2 separate regions of the Homo sapiens genome follow, and region 2 is linked to region 1. A link means that fine-mapping ties the variant in region 1 to the expression of a gene that starts in the linked region. Tissue or cell type: subcutaneous fat. Region 1 holds a variant in brackets; the other region holds the start of a gene. All regions are shown on one strand. Distances are from middle to middle.

Region 1 (8,111 bases):
GATGCAAACCTGTAGTCCCAGCTACTTAGGAGGCTGAAGTGGGAGGATCACTTGAGCCCAGGAGGTCAAGGCTGCAGGGAGCTATGATTGCACCACTGTACTCCAGGCTGGGAGACAGAGTGAGACCCTATATCAAAACAAAGAAAAAAAGAAAAAGCCTTCATGCTTATTTTCTCATTCTATCTTCTCTTTCCTTATCTTCCCATACTGAAGTGTTTCTATAGAAGAGTTGCTTCCATTTCCATTCCTTTTGCCATTTTATTCATGTTTTGCTTCATTTTTCATGTGAAGTTGAGTTTCTAAAAGTATTATGATGCAGTGTTCCTGAAATGTATATGCTTGTCTTTTGGCTTTGCTGCTTAGTTTTTTGTTTTTGTAGGGAGAGGGAGCCGCCTTTTGGTTACTCTATGTGGTACAATTTCTAACATTTCCTAGCTTCTTATATACTCCATTTCTACCTAGTAGTGAAAAACAAAACCATTGTCCTTTTGGCACACTATGATAGATTTTCACTTAAATTTAGCTTTGGGACTCTTAAATTGAGATCTCCCACTAGGCAATATTATAGAGTCACTGATAAAACCTATGCAACAGCTTAGAAAAATGAATAGATTATAATCACAGGGATAGAAGCCAATACATTAATATAAAAACTGGTCTAGAAGGATGTTTATCCAGTGTAGACTGGACCTCCACAGGAAGAACTTACGCTAAGGAATAGTTCATAGATCACAAACAGCATGAATCAATAAATGACTCTGAGATTTGTAATTTTTTAAACCTAACCTGATAATTTCTATACCTTAATAAGTGAGTTTAGTATATTTATTATATTTACTTTTCTGTTTGCTCAGTTTTATCACTATCTTCTAGCTGCATAAGGCAAACCACAAATAAACTCAACACTGCACTATTTTCTCTAGGGGATCCAGGGAGAAAACAGAACCATTACTCTTTGAAGTTGATAGTTGACATATATATTGTTTAGTTTGTGCCAGGCACTGTTCTAAGCACTTTGTAACTCATTTAGTCCTTCCAATAAGCCATGAGGCAGGCTTTCACATTACTCACATGAGAGAATGGGAGAAGAGTCTTAACTTTTCCCAAGGTTGCACAGCTAGTAGTTTGCAAGGGCTGATATTCAAATCTAGGCAGTCGGGTCCCCAACTCTGTGTTCCTAACCATTAAATGTCACTGTCTTATGAAAGCCTATCACATGGAGAACATCATAGTGAAGTTGAAAAATACAAAGAGAAAAGTCTAAAAGCTATTGGAATAGGGGAAAAAAAAGTTTATAAAAAGTGATTGGCAGGCTGACACTAGCAATGTCATCTCCCACTGAACTTAATGGAATAGCATTTCGAAAGTGCTATAGGAAAATAAATTGGCTTATAATTCTTAACTACTTTAGCATACACGATTGAAGGTGAAATAAAGCAATTTTAAGATGCACAAATCCTCTATCAAAGATTATCGCTGAAAGAACTACTAAAGATGTACTTCATCAAAGGGGAAGTTATTTCAGCTTTTGTGGCTTTTGGTAAAAACTCAATATGCATTTAAGAAGGTGCCTAGTATATTGTTTAGTGCATATTAATCTCTCAATGTCATTTTTTAAGAGAAATGTATGCTCCAAAGGTATTTACTAAAAATAAGATTCTATGAAAATTAGTATACTTAAGTGTTTTTCTAAAAACTGAAGTATTAGTCATTGAAAGAAAGCACTCATAGAGGACACTATAGCTGATGATGGCAGAGGTAACAAACTTAATGGTATTCAAGAATAGTATATTATTTATATTGCTGAAGAGTAAATATACAAACATCAACTTTAGTAGGTTAGATTACTAAATGATTTAGAATTTATGAATCATAAATAAGGATCATCTTCTGCTTTTTATGTCCTCAAAATTGATTAGAAAGCGCAAGCATTTTATATAACAATTCCATATTACGTGTTCATTTGAATTCTAAGATTTATTGTTTGTTTTTCAGCGCCTGGCATTGGAAGCGGAGAAAGTTCAAGCAGCTCACCAGTGGAGAGAAGATTTTGCAGTAAGAACCCCTTTTAACTACTTGATTTAAATAGCTTGACATATTGTGTATGGATAATTACATGCATATTAAAATATATTTTAATGATGGAATCTTATGATGTTGTGGGATTAAAAATAATCATACTTGTTGCTTTTTAAATAAATTGCTTTTGGGTAATCAGGGCCAATTAAGTTAGCCAAAATGTACTTTATGTTCCATATTACCAAAAAAAAACAAAAACCAAAAAACCCTTTAAAACCCTTGAAATGTTCTCCCATAATTAAAGGTACATTATTTATAAAATACATTAAAAATAGCATTAAATTTTAATATCTGAATAATTTTTGTCGATATTATGAATATACAAGTTGGAAAAAGTTGCTTTTAACTACTTTGAGTTTGTAAGAAGCAGTATACATATTATAATCACCTTGATGGTGGGCAATATGATGAAAGTGAGAATGAATATATTCAACTTCTTAAAATTTAATTTGCTTCACTTTAGCTAGAAGTAATCTCTCTTCTACTCTGGCCTACTTTGAGAAATGTCAGCTGACATTAGCGGTTGCATGTTTTTTTTTTCTTAATAAACTTGTTTTATGAACTAAGAGTTACTAGTTTATAGAAATAGCAGAAATTCTCCTTGTGGTAAGGTCTGCATATCTATCATTTATCTATCCTCTTATAGCCAAGGGGCACAGTAAAAAAAAAAAAATTCCTTAATAATCAGAAAGTACTTCTGTTACATACTTGAGTGATTACAGTTGTAGTGAAAGAAAATCTTTATAATTTCTGATCACAGAAAACTTCCAGACAACTCATTTTGGGGATGTAAACAACTGCCCTCTACCTTCCCACATTTAAAATAGGTTTAGAATGTGAGCGACAGCTTAATTGTACTCTTTGCAAAGCAAAAGTCTCAAATTTGAAGGTATGTAGTTGTGCTTCAGTAGACACTAAACTGAGGTTTAAGAATTAGCACTTCTTTGTGTTTCTATGATTATGTTGAATATCAAAGGAAAATGCACTAAATGATATTTAATTCATGTATATAATAGTCTTCCATTCTTGATACTTGTGATATTATTTATTTTTACTGTTTATCACTTATTTATATATTTTAAACAGTCTACTAATGAGAGACTCTATTTGACAACTGCCAGTTTGTTTGATTCTCTACTGAACTGATCATATCACTTAACTTGATTGGTATTAATATTATGTAGGTATTGGCTTTGTCTACAACCTTTATCATACACAGGTTAATAAAGATCAATTTGCTATCCATGATATATTAAGGAAAAAATCAATGATTAAGCTAAAAACATAAGCTCCTAGAGCATCGAGCAAACTGTAAGCTCATCTAGTGAATGAAGAGGCTTACAATATACTTAGTTGCTTTTAGATAAAAACGATTTTTTTTGTTTTTGCAAATAGGGAAAAAGCAGCAAAACAAATCTAGCTAAATATATGTTTGATTAACAACATTAAATATAAATTACTCTTCCCTTATGTCCCACAACATAAAGCGTGCATGGTAAAAGCAGTGTAAAGTCATAATAGATGTATGGCTAGATCATGTATTCTGCCTAGCATAGATATAATACCCTTGGTGCTGTTTTAGTTTGAATCTTCAGTAATTCGGAGAACTCAAAACAGACACACAAACTCAGCCTCTGAAATATATAGATTATACATTCCCTGTTCAAAGCACCCTTTTTCTTTGCCTTAAATTCATTTGGTAGTATTTTAAGTAGTCATTTATTAGTTGTATGTTGTTTTCACTTTTCTAAAGAGCAATAATGTGGAAAAAAATAACTTGGCAAGTAGGGTTGTAGTAATGCCTATATCATTGTTGTTTCATTTAACTATTATTTATTAATTTCTAGACATAAGGTTTCATTTCCTAGACATTGTGAACTCTTTAATATTGGGCTCATTAACACTAACATTTGGCAATTATTTTGTTTTCTATATTGAGGTAATGGGTAACCACAACACAAACACAATACAAAAACTCTAAATTCAAGTTTGCTATTACCATATTTTATTGAATGTAAATCATCAATTGTAAGGCACTTAGTCATTCTATTTATTTTAGTTATTTCTAAGAAAAAGCCACTTGGCCGGGCATGGTGGCTTACACCTGTAATCCCAGCACTTTGGGAGGCCAAGGTGGGTGGATTACTTTAGGCCAGAAGTTCAAAACCAGCCTTGTCAACATGGAGAAACCCTATCTCCACTAAAAATACAAAAATTAGCTGTGCGTGGTGGTGCATGCCTGTAATCCCAGCTACTTGGTAGGCTGAGGCAGGAGAATCACTTGAACCTGGGAGGTGGAGGGTGCAGTGAGCCAAGATCATGACACTGTACTACTCCAGCCTGGGCAACAGAGAGAGACCTCATCTCCCCCAAGCCCCCACCAAAAAAGCCACTTAAATTATGATGCATCAGCAATTGTATGCTGTATTCTTAGAGATGTCAAAAAGTGAAAAAAATTATCTTGAAATGTAACCCTTATTTTCTACTTTTTTGGTGCCTCTATCCAAGTAGCAGTACTGCTAAAAAAACATTGTGCAAGAGGACAAATCAGTCCCACAATAATACAAAAGCCATTACTAAATCTTCTATGGTGAAATAGAAAATGAATTATTTGCCCAGTAAGTATTAGGAATTCTTAGCAAAT[G/A]GTGGTCACCATGTGGGAGAATTCTTGAAGAAATTCTGTTCCTAATTTCCCCCTTGGTTACCTCACAATTTATTTAGGGCCTGTTGACATACTGATTGACATCAAAAGAGACTGTTAAAGGGAAAACAAGTTAGACCACTTAGAGTCCTGTCAACTCATTTCCTGAGCATCCTTCCTGAAGGACCGTGAATGATGTTGACAGGACACAGGTCTGTCACAGTTTGCACATTGAGAATTGCTATTTCCCATATCTAACCTTGGCAGCCATACATAGTCTTTATGATAGCCCTTCCCTTTGAAATGCCATAGAGTGATAGAAGGTTTAGATAGTGGTCGTTTTTGTGCTTGGAGAATAGAACCTCAATGAAGACTATCTAATCTTAAGACTCAAATAAGTAAAAAGTACAAAAATAATACATTCCTCTCAGCTTTTTTTTTGTTCCTAATAAACTAGGTGGTGCTTTAGTGCACAGATACAGCAAGGTTAAATAAATCCTTCAAGACCAGAGCAGAATACAGTTCAAATTCGTGGTTGAAACTTATAAATCATTAACATTAAATCTCTTGTTTTGTGAAAGCACACAAAACAATTGTAAATTTTCTCAATATTTTAACCAAACATTTAAAAATGGTTAATTTGAAGATAAATTTTATCATCTTTCAAAAGGTCCTTCTTTTAAACTTTATAATTCTTTTATCTTTTAAGGTATTTAACAATGTGCATCTGTGCAATATTTCTTTAATGCCATCCTTTAATAATTTAACACTAAGATGATTTAGAAGGCAGACATAATTTCCTAAAAGGTACATTAACATTTCAAAGAGCAATGTAATATTCTGATTCTTCCCTCAAGTGTAAGTAGGCAAGTTTCATTAATATTACTTAGGCAAAATGTTGATTAACCTTCCCTACTGTGTAATGTAGAGAAATCTCATGAACAACAAGAACAAAAGGCAAAGCACTAATATGCTGGCAACAACAAAGGACTTATGCAATTCACACTCTCTCTCAGCTCCATTCAATTCCCAACTGAATACACAATTGAGGGAACAAAGGGCGTACACCCTAAATGGATTAAGATTTATGTGGTCATGCATTTACAAGTTCAAACTAATATTTGTAAATAAGCTATGTCTACCAGCTGCCTGCTAGGTCTCCATACAATTTATGGGTGTTAAAGGTGACATTTCATGTCACTTATGATGGACAAATTATTCTATTAAGGGCAGGTGGGAGAAGCAAAAAAGAGCTTGGAAAGCTAATTGTTCTGCATGAAATAATTGCTATTTCTACCAAACAGATCTTTTCCAATTGCATTTCAAATCTCATTTGATTGCATTGCAATGGTTGGTTAACTAAAGCAATTTTGTTTCCAAGGAAGCTTGCAATATTAATTGTACTTACACATGTATAAACATAAGGGGTGTCTAATTTGTATTTTAATAAGTAGGATCTTTATGTATGGCTTATTAGCACCAGCTTGTTACTGTGCAGGCAGAGTACAGACGTCTAGAAATTGGCCGGTAAATAAAACATTTGAAGAGTCCCTTTTAGCTTCAGCTTCACAAAGTAAATTAGAAGGTGAAAATGTTTCTAGTGAAGTTGTACGTTATTGAGTGTCCGTCAGGCTAATTTAGTTCTCCAGTTATAGCTTTAATTTTATAATATTAAAATTACTTTGCCAAATCATATTTTGAAATGTTGATATTTTAAATTTTGTGTTTATGCGAGTTAAACTAATAGGCACCGGCATTATGTATTTAATCATTTCATCTATCCTTATTCATTTCATGAAATTGCATCGTTTTTATTGATTGTAGCAGAAACATTTTTGAATATGTGGAATGGGAAAACACACTGTATTTGTTTTACTTAGAATCGAAGACAGACAGTCACTTGGTATGAGGTCTTGGATATTGAAAGAACTGACTTTTAGGGATAAAAAGTGAGAGCGTAGCATTGTCTTAATGAATAAATAAGTGAATTTTAATAGATCACCAAAATGATTTTAGGCTCTGGCTTTATTTAGTCTTTCTTAGTTTCCACCTTTGGTTGAAACACTCTTGAAATCAAGAGCTTGCATATTTTAATGTTTTTGCAACATTTCTGCTATGTAGGGAAACAATTTTTTGTTACGGCTTTTTAAGAGTCTTGAGACTTTATCTTCATCATAAAGATAGATTAAAAGCCATAATGCAAAGCTCATTTACTCCAAAATTCTGGAAAACCAATGTAATGTAAAGGAGTCAGGCGTATTTGTGTGCCTTACTGTTGTTGTTCATGCATACGTATAAATGCCATGGTAAGAGTATTACAACACCAGCATAAAAAATATTAACCATGGGCTTTAAATTGTTAGTTATGCTGGGTGATAACCTATCTCTTTTGTTTTTTATATTGAAAAGAAGCAAAATATTTAATCATTAATTACCTAGTCAAAAACACTGGTTTCACAGTTAACAATTTTTAATATTTTCTAATGATTTTACTGACCTCACTTTCCATTTCTATTAAAGCCAAAATGACAATAGTACGTGATAGTACAGTGGAAGCCCCTGCAGTCAGACATCATGATGATATGTCCTGTGATAAAGTACATGTAGATATAAATGAGGCTGGGTAAATTTCCTTCTTTCTCTTCCTTCCCTCTCCTCTCAGGAAAGGAGGGAAAAGTTAAAAGAGGACAAACACCCTTGGCTTAGGAAATGGGGAGGTAGAAGGTGGTTCTCTATATTTTCAGGACCAATCCGCTGCTTCAATATCCTGGGATTGAGATGATGAAAATAGTGCTAAATTATTGGGAGATTCCTGGGATTGCTGCCAATGTCCTAAAAATTTCAGCCATGCAGAGCTGAATCATCCTCATTGATGTTTAGTCTGGAGTAGATTACTGCCACCAGCTGGTACCGAATTGCAGCTGTCAAAAGAGGGTTTTTGAACTCCAATTTCATTAGCCTCTCCGTAACTTGAGCTACATTTTATTAAAATTGTTGTATACTGCTTATTTGCATTAAAATGGGAGTGTACTGTATTTCTGAACTGCAAAATAAAAAAATTAAGAAAAAAATACATAAGCATTACAAATTACTGCAATTTTCATTTAATGCATAATCTAAGAAGATTTACTCCATATACGTATTTCCATCCATTTCATATCCTTGTTCAAAAATCTTCAGTGACTCTCCATTTATTAATAGCATATATTTAGGGTATACTAAGCCCTTTATGACCTGGCCCCATCTAGCCTTTCCTAAATTTTGTATTGCATAATCTCTCCAGCAGCTATTACTCCTGTCCTGAAATTCTAAGCTCAAAGCAGAGTAAATGACTGGACATTTCCCTAGAACAGTATTCTTTTCTTCACTTTCAGACCTTTTGATAATCTCT
Region 2 (8,111 bases), 280 kb before region 1:
GGAGGAAACGGGAGAGAAAGAGTAAAATAAAACAAGAAAAAGAAATTGAAAGAAAAATTCTATGATTAGAGATTCAAAATAAAATAATATTGAAGTTATTGCTTGAAGACATGATGGTATTTTAAAATATAACAGCTACTTTTTTCTAAATATTTAAACTAGCATAAGTTTGCCAATATGGGGACTCTGATGGACAAATAATAAACTTCCAATAAATACTTGTTTAATGTTACTATGCATCTCTTTAGAAAAGGTATTTCTTTCATCAGAAATTCAATGCCCTATCATTTCAATAGCTGTATTACTTGGGTCAAGGCAAATTTTTTTCTAAATAGTTGTCTTGTTTGTAGAAAATATTTTACCTTGTTTATTAGTTTAGGATAGTTCCTTTTCTATGCTTTTTATTTTTTATGCAGGCTTCAATGTGCCACTTCACTTTAAAAATGCCAAATATAAACTCTTGACTTAAAAATCACTACACACTCTTTTAACCATTCTCCTGAGCATTGATACTTCTGAATTGCTTGCTTTCTTATTCCTGTCTCTTGAAAGTATTCCCCAAAGAAGTAAGATTGTTGAAGCTTTCTTTCCATTTGTCTTTACTTTTCACTTTCTCTGGCACACATCTTTGTGTGCATGGAAGCATAGTACCATCTCAAATCACAAGTTTTTCTGATTATGACTCTTAACAGTATGTCTATCTCAGAGATGAGTCATATACACCTATATGCATACAAGCAAATAAGGCCCTTTGTCAAGGTTTTCACCTTAGTTTTCTTAAGATGTGGAAAGTAATATGAAAGTTAATTATTTCCTTTAAATTTTTTTGGCTAAGGATAATTATTTTCCTTTTCAGTGTTTGGGTTTGCCTGTTTGTACATGAGAACAAAAAGAGAGAAAGATTAAATAATTTCAATTAGGTTACTCTGTCTCATTTTTTCAGGCAAAATGTTGAAGAAATTAGATTTGATTTACTGAAAAAAATCACAGAAAAATGTTTGTACATACATATACTCATATAAAAACTACAACAAAAACATAATTTTATGCTGCCAACATTCACAGTATCACCTAAAAAAAGGAAGAATAAACATTTCATGGCAATCAAGTTTTTATTGTTCTTTATTCACTTTTAGTTACTAAAAAATGAAATGTATATGAACAAATTAAATATATGAATTAAAAACTGAGATTTAGCCAAAAGGTGCCAATCGCAAGTTTGTTGTAGGTAAAGGTCAGTGATTTGCATGAATTAAATCTCTTTAAACTTTGTTCTAGAAATGATTAAATGCAAAAATCTCCTGCAATACTTCACTAACTTACTAATTAAAATATTTCTTCTTAAATGAATAGTAGATACTGATTTGCGACTTCTTGCTCATTTATAACCTGTAATATATTAACTGTATTTACTGCACATTTACATCATTTACTATAACAGCTTAACAACAATCCTTATGATTTGTCAACATGTTGAACAGCAAATTTATCGTGATTAAGCAAAATTTTATTAAGATTAATGGGATATAATCTGATTTTAAGGGAATTTTCCAAAATAACAGAACTGAGCTGAAAAAATGCATTGTTATGGGTATAGTTAATCCAACAGAAACCTAATGCTATGTTATGGAAATGGTCTTCTTTTAGCTGTCATACATTTAAAAAAAAACCACATTTTGAATATCCTCAATAAGAAGGTTTAGATTGGTAAAAAGCAATTAATAGCAAACCTCGCAACAGAGTATTAAACAATGATTTAGGCTCACAGATGATAACCAACCCTTTCAGTAAGAATTGTAGAAGCAATATCTTTCCTCAACAGCTTCACATATTGGAGAACTCAGTGCTTCAACAGAGTGATCCAAAGAAATTGAGATTTGGCTCAAAGGCCAACAAAGTTAATAATAAAGGCTGACTTACCTTCTCTACAAGCTTATTACATTCTTTTATTCTTTAAGCCCTTTCTCCTAAAGATATAAAATTGGAAACAGTGTACCATAGTGGGAAGTCTGGAGTTGATGTTGAAATAATTGACAGAATATATAACAATGGTATTTTTAGGTAGTGAGGCTATTGATACCAACATATCACATAGACAATAATGGGCATCTCTAATTCTGCTCTTCTTAGTCCTCATGCTGGGGAAGAAAGTCTGCTTTTGAATTATTAAAAATGGAAGAAATGATGGATTTGACTATTTACTTATCTAATTTTGGAGTGGAATGCTATCTTCAGTTATATAAAATATCCCTCCTGAGCTGTAGTTCTCAATCCCATTACATCCCACTTCATCCCTCATTTGCGCAGCTCCTGCTGCCACAGTATCCATGCCTAGCATAAAACAAACTAAGTTAAGTCACGGTGGGGTGCCTTTTGTGAGGCCACTCAGAGTAGAAAGAAACAAAGAGCAAGACAGAGATGCGAAGAACATAAAGAAAACAAATAAGGCATTAAAAAAAGGAGAAATAAGTGGGAAGGAAAAATAAATTCACCAGGCTAAGCATCATAAAATCACACACGCTCTTAAAATTTGGCCAGTAATTAATAGTAGTAGTATTATTATTAGTCTTTGTTTTGGGAGATTGCCTTCAGAGAGCTGGAAAATTCATTTCGAATTAATAAGGGTCTTTTTCTTTCAGAAGCATCTCCTAAAAATAAGAACGGGCTAATTAAAAATCTGACAGCCACCCCGATACTTACAGAATTTTTGCATATGCAGGATAGTCATCACAAATTGTATTCTCTGCACGTCATGTCAAAAGTATTCTCATACACTACTAGAGGGAGCTTAAGAATTTAAGGTGTGCAAGAATATATTTCTATCTTTGGCCCACCAGGGCCCTCTTGTAGGAGGCCTGTGTTGGGCGGGAGAGGCCTAGTCGCAGACCCTGTCTTTTCAAGGAGAAAGCCCGCCACTGCTTCCTCTGAGTCTGGAGATAAAACCAGTCCGGCATTGCTACTCCCTAGCTCTCTCCCCCTCCCTTAATTCCTCCTCTACATTTCAGGCGCATTTCTCAGAGTGCCACCTGTTCCTGCTGCTTACCCTTTTCATGCCTTCGCATTGACAAAAGTGAGCTCACCCTGCGGTAACCTTGTCAGGCAGGGCAGGCCAGTGGCCAGAGCAGGGCGTTAGGACCCTTTTGGAGGTAGTCCCAACTGGGATGCTGCAAAGCGCTTCTCTTACTACTGTCCTCCCTAGATGCAGAATTCGTCCCTCCACCCCTCTGTCCAATGGAACCACAGGGCTGGGAAGATTTTACAGCGTCAGTACTTCTCTGTCCGTCCACAGCCCGGTCCCTGAGGCTCTGTCCTCGCCAGGTGAGCCGAGCAGTACCTGGGCGTGGGACCGCTGGCACAAAGGGCACCCAGCCCCGGCAGAGGCTCTAACCTATGGCACACGCGGGCATATAGTGCCACCTGGTAGAGAGTCAACAGTGGTGCTTTAAAATGCAATACAAACCCCTCCTACATTTGTTGTCAAATCACTTCACGATTCCCAGGCAGGCACTGGATTCTGCGCCTGGGAGTAGGGCTGGGGGGGAACGCTGCCTGCATGTGCAAAAATAACCCCCGAAGACGCGAGCCAAGTCCTGGGTTGGAGCCTCTGCAGCCTGTGGATGCCCGCTGGGCGGCTGGCCGTCCCCCGGGAGCCCCGCGGGGCTGGTCCGCTCCGCCTGCGCACGCCGGGCGGCGGGAGCGAGCCGGCGCCGACTTTGGGAGTTCCTGGCTGCCTTGTATGGAGGGCTGCTCCCGGCCCGTCTCCGCCCGACTGCTCTGACGCCCAGCCCTCCCGCTGCCCACCCCCAGCCGCCTCCCTCTGACTTGCCTAAGAAGCCAGACGGAGCCTCTCGCTTCCACAAGTCTCTCTGCCTGCCATTCCCCGATTCCTGCAGCCACCCCCACCCTCCAGCGCCGTCACCCCTCCTCCGCCCCCGCCCCCGCCTCCGCCTTCGCCTCGGCAATCGGGGGAATAAATCAGGGAGGAAACCGAGAGGGAGAGCGAGAGCGCGCGAGCGCCGGCGGGCTCGCCGAGGTCTGTTTCCAAAGTCGCCCTTGATGGCGGCGGAGGCAAGGCGGCCGCGGCGCGGAGCAGCCGACGCACGCTAGTGGGTCCGCCCGCCACCGCCCCTTCCTCGGCGTCCGCTCCCGCCCTTGCCGTCCCCCGCGCGGCTCCGCGCCTCGGGCCCCGGGCGCAGCCAGCCCTCCAGACGCCCGCGGTCCCGGCGGCGTGTGCTGCTCTTCCTCCGCCCGCGGTTTCCAGCGCCGCTCCTTCCCCCGCTTGGGCAGGGAGGGGGCATTGATCTTCGATCGCGAAGATGGCTGCTGGCTGCCTGCTGGCCTTGACTCTGACACTTTTCCAATCTTTGCTCATCGGCCCCTCGTCGGAGGAGCCGTTCCCTTCGGCCGTCACGTAAGTCGGCGGGCCGGGCAGGGAGCGCCGGCCGAGGGGCGCCGCGGGAGTTGGGGGTGGGGGTCGGTTCCCGAGTCGCGGGGCTTTTCCGCCCGTGGGGGTGGGGAGCGAGCGGCCGGGGAGCCAGGCTCGGATGCGGAGACGCCGGGCAGGCGGTGCGCGCCGCTCGCCGCTGGAATGCGTCCCGAACCGGCGTCTCGGGCGCCTCCACGGGGCCGGGCACTGGGGGCCGACTGTCCCGGGAAGCGCCCGCCGACGACTCGCGGCGTCTCAGCCCGTCTCTAACGGGATTCTCTAGACTTCAGAGTGCAGCCGTACTGGGGAAAAAAGTTTCCAGCCAGCTCACCCGCTCTGATTCAACCCAGTTCAATAAAAAGTTATGTTTTGGTTGGGTAATTTACAAACAGGTAATTTCAGGCTTGCCGAGGTAGCGTGGACTTCCCCCGCACTTGGCCTCGGAGATGCTCTTTAATTGCTGTAGTGCCCAAACTCGTTTTATCCCACGTTACTGGATGCACTTGACAGCCTTCCGATTAGACGCGTGCTGGCTCCCCGCGGCCGAGCGTGCTGTCCACGCAGGGGGCTCGCAGGTACTGGGACCACGCGATCCAACCTCCCCAACCCATTATTTGAAACATCTAAGTGTCGGCAGACACGCGGTCCCTGTTCTTCAAATGAATAGAGCCTATTCTTTGAAGGAGGGACTATTTCCAGTCTCCTACAAATTTTCTTTTATTTTTACCATTTCTAAAATAACTTTTAAAAACCTCGCTGCTGTTCTGGAAATAGAGGGCTTATAGGTAGCTATAGTCACACCACAGGAAGGGAATGAAAAATAATAATTCTCTCCTTTCTTAGCAAAATAGAATCAAACTCAATGGCACATATAAATATATACATATTTTTTAATGCACCGAATAGCCTATCCGGCATTCTGGGAAAGCATTTATTTTGGTTCTTGGAGCTTCTTTAAAGCTTCTAAAGGTAGGTAATCTTAAGTGGATGAGTCACTTTAATGCATTTTACATAACAAAAACAAAGCCCAAGGTAGCTTTCCCGGTATTTATGCTGCTGGGAATTACTTGCTGTCCTTTGTTGGCTGAGTGCTGAATACAGGAGTTTTTGGTGGAAAGTAACAGTGAATCTTTAGCGGTTGAAATCCTGCGGCTATTATTTAAGATTCAGTTTTAAGTATTTATTACCTTAGGTGTCAGTGCAAGAATCTGGAGGATGCACATTCTATCCCGGAGAAGGGGAGTGTCTAATTTTTGTTGTCATTGAGTTACAGTAATGTTCCTCTTTAGATAATCTTCCATAAAACTGATTGCAGATCCTTTTTGTTATGAAGCAAAAGGGTAAATGCCATCTGGAGATCTTCGTTTAATTGGCAGGATGTTCCAGTCAGATATTTTTAAACATAAAAAGAGTAAGAATCACCCTAAGGATGCTTCAGAATTATTTACTCTTATTAAGGCATCACACTTCCATTTAATTTTTTAAGTCTGTTTGTTGCTTGGCCTGTAAAGTGAGAACTCAAATGAGTCGCTTGCATTCTGTGTCAAATAAATAAGTGGCTCTTTAAAAAACAATCACTTCCTAAATGTGTTCCGATTACTCATTTTTACAGTGTTGTTTTTAACTGACAATTTATCAATATTTTTATCATGGGAGGGGATACATCATCATACCATTGGGGAAAACTACAACAAAATACAACCTTTTATTCCTCAACATACTGTGGTAAAATATTAATGTAAAAATCCTTATTGTTAAGAAGAACATCTGCAATAATGCTTTCCTAAAATTATAAGTAAATCAATTTTCATGGTCAGAAATTTACTAGACACAAGAAAGAGTATATATAGTGGGTTAAAATGGGAAGTAGGACATCACAATTTCTTTTCTTTGGAAGGATCTGAAATTTTTTTTAACGATGAAAATTCAAGATATTTTCAAATTATATAAGACATTGATTATTTAATGAATGAAATACTTAATAAAAGGTTTTGTGGAGCGAAGTCAATCTCCTGTAGGTAATCTTAACAATATTTTTGGAAGCCTTCTGCATCTTCAGTTTTTCATTTGAAAAGTTAGTAACACTGTCTTCTGAGGAAAGAACTGATGGTTGACATTTGTACTTCATGTTAGATTTCTGAATAAACTTTATGAAATTAAAAAATGCAATATTTTTCATAAAGATGTGCCATTTGCTTTTCTTTCGAGAAAAGAATTCATATGCACTGTTTAATCAGGACAAATCTCAAATCTTTGGGGGAAAATTTCAAATTTATAAAAACTGAGTGCAAAGACTGTAGTGTCAATAAAGGCAAATTATTATGCTTCTGTATGTAAATTTCTCTCGGAATCATTAGTAAATATTTTTGGGTTTTTTTTTTTGCCAGTTTCATTTTTCACAGAAAAAGTAATGTAAGAAGTTTTTATCAGCTGAAGAGGAAGAGCATGCCATCACACACTATAAAATTAATTATGCACTAATTGGAGTTGGACTTCAATTAGAATTAGTAGTTCAAAGTTTTTTTTTAAAAATATAGAGTGTTTACATTTGTGTGAAGGGCTTAAATTCTATTATGGTAAAACAAATGATGTGTCAGTTAAGTATCTTCTTTCATTTTTTGCTCTCCTGTTTAACATACATTCTAATATAAATTTTCTTTTGGATTAAAGTAGTAGTTAACCTGTTCTAAGAGTTAACACTAAAATAGATGTTTTTCAGACAAGGAAATTTTGATATGATTATTTCTCTGGGTTAGGTGTTTCTTTTGGAAATGTTTGTCTCCCTAAGGTGTGAAACATAAATACATGATATGGTAGCAGCCACATAATGTGTATTGGTTGATATATAAATGGAAAATATATCATTTTTATGCTATAGTATGCACATGTCGTATTGGTATTTTTAAAATGTAGCTTTCAAAAAGGGTAGTTGTCCGTTTTTCTAGAAATAATTTCTTGTCACATGTTAAAAGACTTCTATTTTAATATTTAGAATTACATGTGTGATAGCCAGTATTATAATGGTAATTTAAATTTGTCCTTAATTTTAGAATCTATTTACAAATGCAATTAAAAAATATATAGTTATAACTGTTAATATCAAACTTTTATCTCAGTCACATCAAAATGCCAGTCAGTCTACAATAATTGGCTGAGAGCCTATTGGTATACAGGGATTTTAATATAAAGTGTACAATGGTATAAATATAAAACTAAGAATTGTGGATATCCACAGGAAATAAGCATAAATTCTCATAGAAGTATAGTACTTTTGGCTTTAATTACTTAGGATATTTTTTTTTCCTGTTATTAGAGAAATTTGTATTTAAGGCTATAAAGGAGAAATTTTGTATGTCAGGATATTGTAATGGATATCTGTTCCATGCATTATAAGTGACATAATTATTCTCACTTGAAGTCAGCAGTTTCTGTTTACATTTTACATACACAAGGAAATGTGCCATATGATCAATTATGAGATAAAATATTAAATGTAAAATAAAACCTGAAACAGTGAACATTAATAAACTTTTCTCAAGTCTTTAATTTTGTTCTCATCGGCTTAACCATATAACATTTACTATTCCACAGATGTATGTTTTAAAATATGCAACAATAGATATATTTTTCCACGTAAGTAGTAATATTATGTTAAATTTATTAATGTTACACATAGCTATATGTG

Which allele goes with the higher level. Alleles are on the strand shown, and positions count from the first base shown. SD is a standard deviation of normalised expression in the study named.
In carriers of allele G in region 1, the expression in subcutaneous fat of the gene that starts at base 3,999 in region 2 tends to be lower than with A alone (moderate effect, 0.66 SD a copy in TwinsUK).

What was found. PIP is the estimated chance that this variant, and not a neighbour inherited with it, causes the effect.
Region 2: CACNA2D1 starts here. The variant in region 1 is fine-mapped to the expression of CACNA2D1 in subcutaneous fat (TwinsUK, PIP 0.95).

Annotation. Positions count from the first base shown.
Region 1 is chr7:82,164,494-82,172,604 of GRCh38, reverse strand. It overlaps CACNA2D1 (calcium voltage-gated channel auxiliary subunit alpha2delta 1), which reads left to right. Exons shown (of 39, transcript NM_000722.4): 4 at 1,996-2,055. Among named protein-coding and RNA genes, the nearest start is that of CACNA2D1-AS1, 160 kb to the right of the region's middle. The variant G/A (reference allele first, on the strand shown) is at 4,724.
Region 2 is chr7:82,439,665-82,447,775 of GRCh38, reverse strand. It overlaps CACNA2D1 (calcium voltage-gated channel auxiliary subunit alpha2delta 1), which reads left to right and starts at 3,999. Exons shown (of 39, transcript NM_000722.4): 1 at 3,999-4,411. The coding sequence starts at 4,317. RefSeq lists an enhancer at 4,994-5,557.